Linked DNA regions of Homo sapiens. The protein of the gene in region 3 interacts with the protein of the main gene of each other region in a biochemical or structural test. Each region holds a gene or a part of one and is shown on either strand. Other genes may lie near its edges.

Region 1 (3,650 bases), on a different chromosome or scaffold from region 3:
TTCATTGGAGGATTTTGAGCAAAGCCAAAAAATTGGGTTATATTTTTAAAGAATGGCTCTGGGAATTCTTTAAAACACTGGGAACCATGAGATAAGCTAGGAAATGATTGGAATGATCTGGTTTAAGAGACATTAATGGCTTAGACTAGAGCGACAGTAGTGGCAATAGTGAAAGTTACTAGTTTCTGGCTTTAGAGAGTCAAATGTTTTGGATATGTTAAGTTTGAAGTGTCTGTTAAACGCCCAAGTGGACACATCAGGTAGGCAGTTAGATATGTAAGTCAAGCATTCAGAGGAGAGGTTTGGACTGAGGATAGTTAAATGTTAAGCATCACCAGTAGACTTAAAGGGATCTCTTGGCTAGGGAGTTAGACTGAGAAGAGATCCAAGAATTGAGAATTGGTACTTTCCACATGGAAAGCTGAGCAAAAGAGAAGGCGCCATCGAGGAGGATTGAAAAGTGGACAGTGGGGTGTGAGGAAACTGAAGAGTGTGTTGTCCCACAAGCCAAGTAAAGGAAGTATTTTTAGAGATAAGGAGTGATCAGTCCCCTGTATCACCTTTAATCACCTAAATACTTCATAAGAAATCAGGCAGTATCCTCTTTCTTTCTGAATGGTCTCTGAGAAAGCAATTTCCTTTTTTAAATCTGGTTTATCAACATGAATGTTCACAGTTATTCTCCCCTGGCAACTACTAAATCTAAAGCCCTGAACAAAGTTTTACTCATAAAGAGGCCAATGCTGTTTCCTACGTGGATGAGTATGGCAGCTGCTGCTGCCTCTGATGTTTGAACAGGAGAAGCGATGCTGTTTCATAGGAAGAATTTATCAGGAAGCTAGTGATAGTCCAGCTACCTCAGAGGTTTATTGTGGTAGCCAAACGAGGTAGATGTAAAAACCAAATGAAAGGTATAATTGCAGATAGGGGTCTCCTTCCCTTATTGCCCCAAGTGTGGTACCAACTTGATAGTGTTAGATTTGAAGAACTATGTTGGCAAATAAAAATATTTTTCATTTTGAGTCTGTAGGAATAGTTTTTTACTTCCTATGCACTCTATCCCGATAGGCAGTTTCGCACATCATTTTATAATATTCTTGAGGGTAGAGAAAAGGGCTAGAAAGAGGATAAGAACAACCAGGGCAGGCGCGGTGGCTCACGCCTGTAGTCCCAGCACTTTGGGAGGCCGAAGCGGGTGGATCACCTGAGGTCAGGAGTTCGAGACCAGCCTGGCCAACATGGTGAAACCCCGTCTCTACTAAAAATACAAAAATTAGTCAGGCGTGGTGGCGCAGGCCTGTAATCCCAGCTACTCAGGAGGCTGAGGAAGGAGAATTGCTTGAGCCCAGGAGATGGAGATTGCAGTGAGCCAAGATCACGTCACTGTACTCCAGCCTGGGCAACAGGGTGAGACTCCATCTCAAAAAAGAAAGAAAAGAACAACCAGGCTTTGAGATAATAGCTTTTTTTCCCAATCCTAAACTCATCCTTTAATTCTAAACAGTGTCTAAATAAAGAGAATTGAGGTAGAAAAGTAAGCAAGTTAAAAGGCTTCCTTACTTTTTTTTTCCCTAGGCCAGCCAGGAAGACTTTCTTCTTTTAACTGACTTTTTTCTGGAAAGTGTTCAACTGAGTAATGGTTTGTCACATGTTACATGGAATAGAAAAAGTGCAAATTCAAAGCTTAGGGACTGGTTAGGGGTTTTGAACTCTAGGCAGCCAGCTAGAAACTGATTTGAGGAAGCAGGAGGGTGGGGGAAATGAGTCTGCTTGATGATAATAGGGGTAAAGTGCAAAATACTTATTTTGGTGAAAAAGGAACATCGCAAATACAGGACTTTTTGTGGTAAGCTTTTTGAGGCAATAGGACTATAACTTCACAATACATAGGTATCTTGCAGACCTTATATAATATGATTTGCTATGGCTGGTCATTAAATACTTCTCCTTGGATAAAAAATGCATATAATGCATTGCAAATTGAAGGCCATTTTATTTTTTATATTACAAATCTAATCCTAATACATGGCAGAAAATTTAGAAAACAAGATTTTCTACCATTAAGTACTATCATAATCCCACTAGCCAGTAACCCTGTTATGTATTCTTGTCTATTCTGGTTTAATTTGGTAACATTTTATCATGAAGTTAAACTTTCTGGCTCTAACTTTTAATGTGGCATAGAATCTGTCTTCTCAAACATGTAATCTACTTACACACAATTTATGAAAATTAAATGTATTTTTAAAATTGTAAACAACAGGCCGGGCCCAGTGGCTCATGCCTGTAATCCCAGCACTTTGGGAGGCCGAAGCCAGCAGATCACTTGAGGTCAGGAGTTCAAGACCAGCCTGGCCAACATGGGGAAACCCTGTCTCTACTAAAAATACAAAAATTAGCTGAGCGTGGTGGTGCACACCTGTAATCCCAGCTACTCGGGAGGCTGAGGCAGGAGAATCGCTTTAATCCAGGAGGCAGATGTTGTAGTGAGCTGAGATTGCTCCACTGCACTCCAGCCTGGGTGGCAGAGCGAGACTCTGTCTCAAAAAAAAAAAAAAAAAAAAAAAGTAAACAACACTGTAATGGACATTTCTAACTCTGAATTTCTGTGCAAATCAATGTTTTTCTTTGATTTCAACAAATTATGCTTAAAATACAATGCAGATACAAATGCAGAATTCTACTAATTAAACCTTTTCTAACTTTTTAATAAAATTACCCCCTCCAGTTTATATCAGTTTATTCTTCTACCACTGGCATATGAAACTGTGTGTTTCTTCACCCCTTCATCAGTGCTGAATATTACGTATCTTTTTTAAAATTTGCTTTCTTTTTTCTTTTTTTTTTTGAGACGAGGTCCCGCTCTGTTACCCAGGCTAGAGTGGAGTGGTGTGTTCATGGCTTGCTGCAGCCTTTACCTCCTGGGCTCAAGGGATCCTCTCCGCTCAGTCTCCCAGGTAGCTGGGACTGTAGGCATGGGCTGCCATGCCCATCTAAGTTTTTTTGTTTTCTTTTCTTTTTTGTGTTTTTTTTGTTTTGTTTTTTGTTTTTTGTTTTTTGTTTGTTTGTTTTGTTTTCTTGAGATGGAGTCTTGCTCTGTCGCCCAGGCTGGATTGAAGTGGCGAGATCTCGGCTCACTGCAACCTCTGCCTCGCGGGTTCAAGCAATTCTTCTGCTTCAGCCTCCTGAGTAGCTGGAATTACAGGCACACACCACCACACCTGGCTAATTTTTGTATTTTTAGTAGAGACGGGGTTTCACCATGTTGGTCAGGCTGGTCTTGAACTCCTGACCTCGTGATCCGCTCACCTTGGCCTCCCAAAGTGCTGGGATTACAGGCGTGAGCCACCGCACTGGCCAAGGTTTTTTATTTTTTTATAGAGACAAGGTCTCATTTTGTTCCCTAGGCTGGTCTCAAACTCCTGGGCTCTAGCAGTTTTCCTGTCTCAGCATCCCAAAGTGGTGGGGTTACAGGCATGAGCCACCCAATCTGGACAGTTTTGCCACTTTGATGAACAACAACCAAAAAAAAAAACCTTATTTAAATTTCTTTTATCAATAACACTTGACATTTTTTTAAAATGTGCTTATTGGCCATTGTATTTCTGATCTGAGTTGCTTGTATGTGTGCCTTTTGCACACATACATTA
Region 2 (3,650 bases), on a different chromosome or scaffold from region 3:
AAGAAATGTATCTGAAACCCAGCAAAGCCTGCTGTCTGACCAGATACTTGAGCTGAAGAGCAGTCACAAAAGGGAACTGAGGGAGCGTGAGGAGGTCCTGTGCCAGGCAGGGGCTTCGGAGCAGCTGGCCAGCCAGCGGCTGGAAAGACTAGAAATGGAACATGACCAGGAAAGGCAGGAAATGATGTCCAAGCTTCTAGCCATGGAGAACATTCACAAAGCGACCTGTGAGACAGCAGATCGAGAAAGAGCCGAGATGAGCACAGAAATCTCCAGACTTCAGAGTAAAATAAAGGAAATGCAGCAGGCAACATCTCCTCTCTCAATGCTTCAGAGTGGTTGCCAGGTGATAGGAGAGGAGGAGGTGGAAGGAGATGGAGCCCTGTCCCTGCTTCAGCAAGGGGAGCAGCTGTTGGAAGAAAATGGGGACGTCCTCTTAAGCCTGCAGAGAGCTCATGAACAGGCAGTGAAGGAAAATGTGAAAATGGCTACTGAAATTTCTAGATTGCAACAGAGGCTACAAAAGTTAGAGCCAGGGTTAGTAATGTCTTCTTGTTTGGATGAGCCAGCTACTGAGTTTTTTGGAAATACTGCGGAACAAACAGAGCAGTTTTTACAGCAAAACCGAACGAAGCAAGTAGAAGGTGTGACCAGGCGGCATGTCCTAAGTGACCTGGAAGATGATGAGGTCCGGGACCTGGGAAGTACAGGGACGAGCTCTGTTCAGAGACAGGAAGTCAAAATAGAGGAGTCTGAAGCTTCAGTAGAGGGTTTTTCTGAGCTTGAAAACAGTGAAGAGACCAGGACTGAATCCTGGGAGCTGAAGAATCAGATTAGTCAGCTTCAGGAACAGCTAATGATGTTATGTGCGGACTGTGATCGAGCTTCTGAAAAGAAACAGGACCTACTTTTTGATGTTTCTGTGCTAAAAAAGAAACTGAAGATGCTTGAGAGAATCCCTGAGGCTTCTCCCAAATATAAGCTGTTGTATGAAGATGTGAGCCGAGAAAATGACTGCCTTCAGGAAGAGCTGAGAATGATGGAGACACGCTACGATGAGGCACTAGAAAATAACAAAGAACTCACTGCAGAGGTTTTCAGGTTGCAGGATGAGCTGAAGAAAATGGAGGAAGTCACTGAAACATTCCTCAGCCTGGAAAAGAGTTACGATGAGGTCAAAATAGAAAATGAGGGGCTGAATGTTCTGGTTTTGAGACTTCAAGGCAAGATTGAGAAGCTTCAGGAAAGCGTGGTCCAGCGGTGTGACTGCTGCTTATGGGAAGCCAGTTTAGAGAACCTGGAAATCGAACCTGATGGAAATATACTCCAGCTCAATCAGACACTGGAAGAGTGTGTGCCCAGGGTTAGGAGTGTACATCATGTCATAGAGGAATGTAAGCAAGAAAACCAGTACCTTGAGGGGAACACACAGCTCTTGGAAAAAGTAAAAGCACATGAAATTGCCTGGTTACATGGAACAATTCAGACACATCAAGAAAGGCCAAGAGTACAGAATCAAGTTATACTGGAGGAAAACACTACTCTCCTAGGCTTTCAAGACAAACATTTTCAGCATCAGGCCACCATAGCAGAGTTAGAACTGGAGAAAACAAAGTTACAGGAGCTGACTAGGAAGTTGAAGGAGAGAGTCACTATTTTAGTTAAGCAAAAAGATGTACTTTCTCACGGAGAAAAGGAGGAAGAGCTGAAGGCAATGATGCATGACTTGCAGATCACGTGCAGTGAGATGCAGCAAAAAGTTGAACTTCTGAGGTAATGTATGTACCTTCTAGACGTCACGAATCCCACAGAGCACCTCACCAGATCTAACTTCCACTGCTTGCCGTGCCTAGAGAAACTAACCTAGTAGTCTTCACGAAGAGAGCAGTACTCTCTAGACTTCCTTCTGCTTCTGTGCCGTATTAACAAATAAAATAACCTTGTTTAGGAGGCATTCCCTTCCGCTGTAGCAAACAAGTGTTCATATGGGGTGTGAAAGTTCACAATGGCGAGTGTTTGCTGTTTAACCATGTGCATCCTCAATGTACCTCTTTAACTTTTTTCTAGCACTTATTTCATTTAGATGGATAGGGGATTTTTTTTTTTTATTTTGCTAAGTGTTACTTTCCTCATTTTGAGGAAACATGTTATATACAAATGAATGATTTTTTGTGTATTATTAACTTAGTAGATAAGAACTCACTTCTTATGCTAATATAGAAAAAATGTTCTGTCTTTATAGTTTTGTACTCATATCACTTGAAGCACATGCTGATAACCCATAAACAGTGCAAATGGTCAGGCACCATGGCTTAAATGCCTGCAATCTCAACTGTTTGGGAGGCCAAGGCAAGAGGATTTCTTGAGGCCAGGAGTTTCCAGGCAAGCCTAGGGAACATAGCAAGACTGCCTCTACAGAAAAATAAAAAAATGTTTGCTGGGCGTGGTGGTGCACACCTGTGGTCCCAGCTACTTGGGAGGCCGAGGTGGGAGGGTTGCTTGAGCTTGAGAGGTCAAAGCTGCAGTGAGCCATGATCATGCCATTGTACTCCAGACTGGGTGACAGAGTGAGACCCTGTCTCTTTTAAAAAAAAAAAAAAAAAAAAAAAAAAAAAAGAGACAAAACAAACAGTGGAAATTTATCTTAGAACATATAATTTGAGGAGCCTCCAGATTCTAATAAATATGCTTGAAAAGCAGAGATACAAGTAGAATTAATTTGAACCACTGCCCACTTGACATTGTAAAATATAATTGCATAGTCTTCTAGCAAATTTGGTTTTTCAAAAAAAAAAAAAACTTGTAAACTATTACAGGACGTCTGAAATGTCTCTGAAATAATTTAATTCTGAATGTAGTTTTTCCTCTTCTTCAGACCATTTTTAGTCCTAAAAATCAGAATATAATGAGATGAATAAAATCACAAAGTAAACAGTGTACATATTTCATTGTGGCCCTTTGATTTCAATAGAGAATTTTCTTTCCCTAGGTACCCAGGGGCCTAAAACTAAGCTAATATAGCTTTGTAACATGGCTTATGTGTATTCAGAACAGGTAGGACTTGAGACTGAGATAAATGAAGACATTTGCTCAAAGCAGTATGCTTGCCATTGAGAAAAATCAACAACCAGAATGAGCATTGAGTCTTGATTCATTTCTCCAGGCTTAAGGGTTTTTTAGCTACACTTCTCTAACATCTTTTAGTGAAATTCTTACTTCCCAAAAGAAATGTGTCAATATGTCATAACTCGATTTCCAAATACTAAGAGACTACTAATTTAGACTTTTCTTTTTAACTGGCATTGAATACTCATCCTTTTGGAAGTTACTAGAAAATATTTTCCAAAGATGCCAGATGACTGCCTTGTAACAATTTTTTTCAATCTCTGTGCTTCAGATATGAATCTGAAAAGCTTCAACAGGAAAATTCTATTTTGAGAAATGAAATTACTACTTTAAATGAAGAAGATAGCATTTCTAACCTGAAATTAGGGACATTAAATGGATCTCAGGAAGAAATGTGGTAAGACGTATACTTACATTTTCCTAAGACATTTTTGCAAAGACTAAAATTCTTTTACTTCAGCTTTTAAAGCCTAACCATTAAATTTTATTTTCATCATTCCTTTTAGGCAAAAAACGGAAACTGT
Region 3 (3,650 bases):
AGGCAAGACTCGTGGCTGTGACCCATGGGCCTCTGAGGAGGCGTTGTAAGTCCGCCCAGCTCCCCACTTGCTGTGCTCTCACTCAATGCGAAGGGAACCAAGGTACCAGGGCCAAGTGGGTCCAGACATCCACACGGATTCTGAAAGGGCAGGTCAAGCAGGCACGTGGGGCCCAGGTTACCCCTTATTCCCCGCTGTGGCATGGGAAGCTGGGAAGGGCTGGGGGTTGGGGTATCATGGGATGTGCTTCCTTAACGGCTCCTTTGTGTCACTGCCAGACTTTGTCCAGCCATCAGCCACGGCCTCTCGACAGCACCAAGATGGAAGTCAAAGGTCAGCTGATCAGCTCTCCTACCTTCAATGCCCCAGGTCGGTGGCTGCTTCCCCTCCTGCTGCCTCCTCCCCTGCTCTGAATCACCACCTGCTTGCTCGGGAAGAGTTGGTCCCTTGCCCCACAGCTGCTCCAGAATGCCCTGGCTGTCCCACTGATCTTTGCTCCCTCTGTGTCCAGCTGCCCTGTTCGGAGAGGCTGCCCCCCAGGTGAAGTCAGAGCGTCTGCGGGGGCTGCTTGACCGGCAGCGGACCCTGCAGGAGGCCCTGAGCCTGAAACTTCAGGAGCTCCGCAAAGTGTGTCTCCAGGAGGCGGTGAGGGCCTGGCCCTAGGGGTATCAGGCGGGGAGGTTGGGAGGAGGTGAGGAGCTGGGGCCCCTAGGTAGACAGACTTGGGTGGCAATTCCTCAACCACTTGTCTTGGCTGTAGATTCCCTGTCACCTACTTTCTCCTCAAAGCTCAGCTTAGATGTGTTAGAATGAATGAAATAGGCTGGGCGCTGTGGCTCACGCCTGTAATCCCAGCACTTTGGGAGGCCGAGGCAGGTGGATCACCTGAGGTCGGGAGTTCCAGACCAGCCTGACCAACATGGAGAAATCCCGTCTCTACTAAAAATGCAAAATTAGGCTGGGCGCGGTGGCTCACGCCTGTAATCCCAGCACTTTGGGAGGCCGAGGTGGGCGGAACACGATGTCAGGAGATCGAGACCATCCTGGCTAACACGGTGTAACCCCGTCTCTACTAAAAATACAAAAAATTAGTCAGGCGTGGTGGCGGGCACCTATAGTTCCAGCTACTCGGGAGGCTGAGGCAGGAGAATGGCATGAACCCGGGAGGCGGAGCTTGCAGTGAGCCCAGATTGCGCCACTGCACTCCAGCCTGGGCGACAGAGCAAGACTCTGTCTCAAAAAAAAAAAAAAAAAGCAAAATTAGCTGGGTGTGGTGATCCTAGCAACTTGGGAGGCTGAGGCAGGAGAATCGCTTAAACCCTGGAGGTGGAGGTTGCGGTGAGCTGAGATTGCGCCATTGCACTCCAGCCTGGGCAACAAGAGCAAAACTCCACCTCAAAAAAAAAAAATATGGTAATACAGGCCCACTGTTGACAATTTCAAATCCAACAAACCTCAGAAAACAGGTTCTGTCCAAAATTTGGCAGCACAGTCTGACCTGAACTGGCACAGGCTGATCTGTAGTTTCAGTTTACCCCTCTTACTGTGAATGCCCACAGTGTGCCGGAAATAATACTACAGCTCAGACCACGCAGCCACAGCCCCTGAAGTGAGTTATATAATACTTAGGATCTCGATGGTATCACCTTTATAAAAACAAAACAATTCTGGATTCCAAAGCAGGTCTCCCTGCCTCCCATGCCCACCACCCCAGGGGTTTGGGCCACTGAGGTTTGGGCACACCTGCCTAGTGGAGATACTGGTAGGAGGGAGGGGAGTATCGTGCGTGGTTGCTGAGCAGGGCCAGGCTCCTGGTAGGACTTCTGTAGCTTCTGGGATCATTAATGCTTCACCCCATCCTTCCAACTAACCCTTGGTAGTCTCTGACCCCTGCCTCCCACCAGGAGCTGACTGGCCAGCTGCCCCCTGAGTGCCCACTAGAGCCTGGTGAACGGCCCCAGTTGGTCCGCCGGCGGCCCCCCACAGCCCGCGCCTACCCTCCACCGCACCCCAACCAAGCACACCACTCCTTGTGCCCTGCTGAGGTGAGCAGATGGGTGTGGAGAGCAAGAGGGTGGGAAGAGGGGACAGGTACAGAGGAGTAGCCAGGAGGAAGGTGTGGGGAGGGGGCTTGTGGCCAGGTGAGGGAGAGGCTAAGATGAGAAGGAAAAGGGCTTCTGGAGTTAGTTTCCTGTGATGAGGGAGGATGCTGGTCCCTAACTGTCAGGACAGGCCTCCAACCCTAAGGAAGATGAACAGACCCAGCCCTTCACCAAGAGAGGCCCTGACACGCCCCCTCCCCGGGGTGAATAGGTCTGAATAGGCTGCAGGAAGTGCAGGCCAGCCTCTACTGGGTTTGGCCCCGCCAGGTCCCTGTTCCTGGCCATTTCCAACATTTGGGTGGGCCCAACAGGAGCTGGCTCTTGAGGCCCTGGAACGCGAGGTGTCAGTGCAACAGCAGATCGCGGCGGCCGCCCGCCGCCTGGCCTTGGCCCCTGATCTGAGCACCGAGCAGCGCCGGCGCCGGCGCCAGGTCCAGGCAGATGCACTGAGGAGGCTGCATGAGCTAGAGGAGCAGCTCAGGGATGTCCGGGCCCGCCTTGGCCTCCCAGTGCTCCCGCTGCCCCAGCCACTGCCACTGTCCACGGGGTCAGTGATCACCACCCAGGGAGTCTGCCTGGGCATGCGTCTTGCTCAGCTCAGCCAAGGTGAGCATCCCCTGGTGAGGGTGGGAGAGTGGACACTGGCAAATGGACGTGGTAGGGCTGGGATGGGTGACTGGCCGGTGAAAACCGGGAGGTAGGCACAACTCAAGTGGCCCAACCCGTGAGAAGAGTTGTGACAAACTGGCTTACCGGAAAGGACAAACTGTGGGGGACTGATGAATATCTGCCAGGACAGTCAGGAACCAAACTGGGGTGGTCTTGGGCTCTGGTAAAAGCAGATTCTTGGGACAGGAACAGGATGAGGCGGAAACTGGCCAGAAGGTGGCCCAAGTAGAGGTGCCCACCCAGTGGTGTAAGGGGGCAGCACCCAGGCCTGGGAGTGAGAGGCCCACTTCTCCCCCTCTCACCTGTAGAGGACGTAGTTCTGCACTCAGAGAGCAGCTCCCTCTCAGAGTCTGGGGCCAGCCATGACAACGGTGAGGACTCCTATCCCCCAAACCTGCCCCCGACTCCTACGTCCCTTTAGCCCATCCCCTTTATTCATCCGACCACATCCTGCATGATCAGCCCATCCTTTGATGCCCAGCCCCTCCTGTGCTGCTTCAGCTTCTCCTTAGCCATGCTCCATCTTCCTATGGGTCCCCCATCTTCTTAGCCTCACCCCACCCCAGCCCCACAGCCCCAGAACCTACTTGTCAGCCTTAGTTCCTCCTCAGCCTGCTTAACCTGTCCCAGCACTTTGCCCCTCCCCATGGCCTTGCCCCCCAGCCTGTCCTGCCCCCTCTGGGCCCCCCTCATTGAATTCTATCCCACTTGCTCTCTTCCACTCAGAGGAGCCCCATGGCTGCTTCTCTCTGGCCGAGCGCCCCTCACCACCCAAGGCTTGGGACCAGCTGCGGGCAGTATCTGGGGGGAGCCCTGAGCGGCGAACCCCATGGAAACCACCTCCATCAGATCTTTATGGGGATCTGAAGAGCCGGCGGA

The links.
Region 1: the proteins of CCDC120 (region 3) and CEP170 form a complex in vitro, tested with the Homo sapiens proteins (one study listed by IntAct).
Region 2: the proteins of CCDC120 (region 3) and NIN form a complex in vitro, tested with the Homo sapiens proteins (one study listed by IntAct).

What each region holds. Positions count from the first base shown.
Region 1 is NC_000001.11:243,245,144-243,248,793, reverse strand, and holds part of CEP170 (centrosomal protein of 170 kDa), read left to right. Parts: intron 1-3,650.
Region 2 is NC_000014.9:50,754,615-50,758,264, reverse strand, and holds part of NIN (ninein), read left to right. Parts: coding exon 1-1,773; intron 1,774-3,397; coding exon 3,398-3,523; intron 3,524-3,632; coding exon 3,633-3,650. UniProt on the Homo sapiens protein: Centrosomal protein required in the positioning and anchorage of the microtubule minus-end in epithelial cells. May also act as a centrosome maturation factor.
Region 3 is NC_000023.11:49,061,957-49,065,606, forward strand, and holds part of CCDC120 (coiled-coil domain-containing protein 120), read left to right. Parts: intron 1-2; 5' UTR 3-85; coding exon 86-148; exon of another isoform or gene 149-161; intron 162-278; coding exon 279-369; intron 370-511; coding exon 512-645; intron 646-1,904; coding exon 1,905-2,045; intron 2,046-2,413; coding exon 2,414-2,708; intron 2,709-3,079; coding exon 3,080-3,142; intron 3,143-3,497; coding exon 3,498-3,650. UniProt on the Homo sapiens protein: Centriolar protein required for centriole subdistal appendage assembly and microtubule anchoring in interphase cells. Together with CCDC68, cooperate with subdistal appendage components ODF2, NIN and CEP170 for hierarchical subdistal appendage assembly.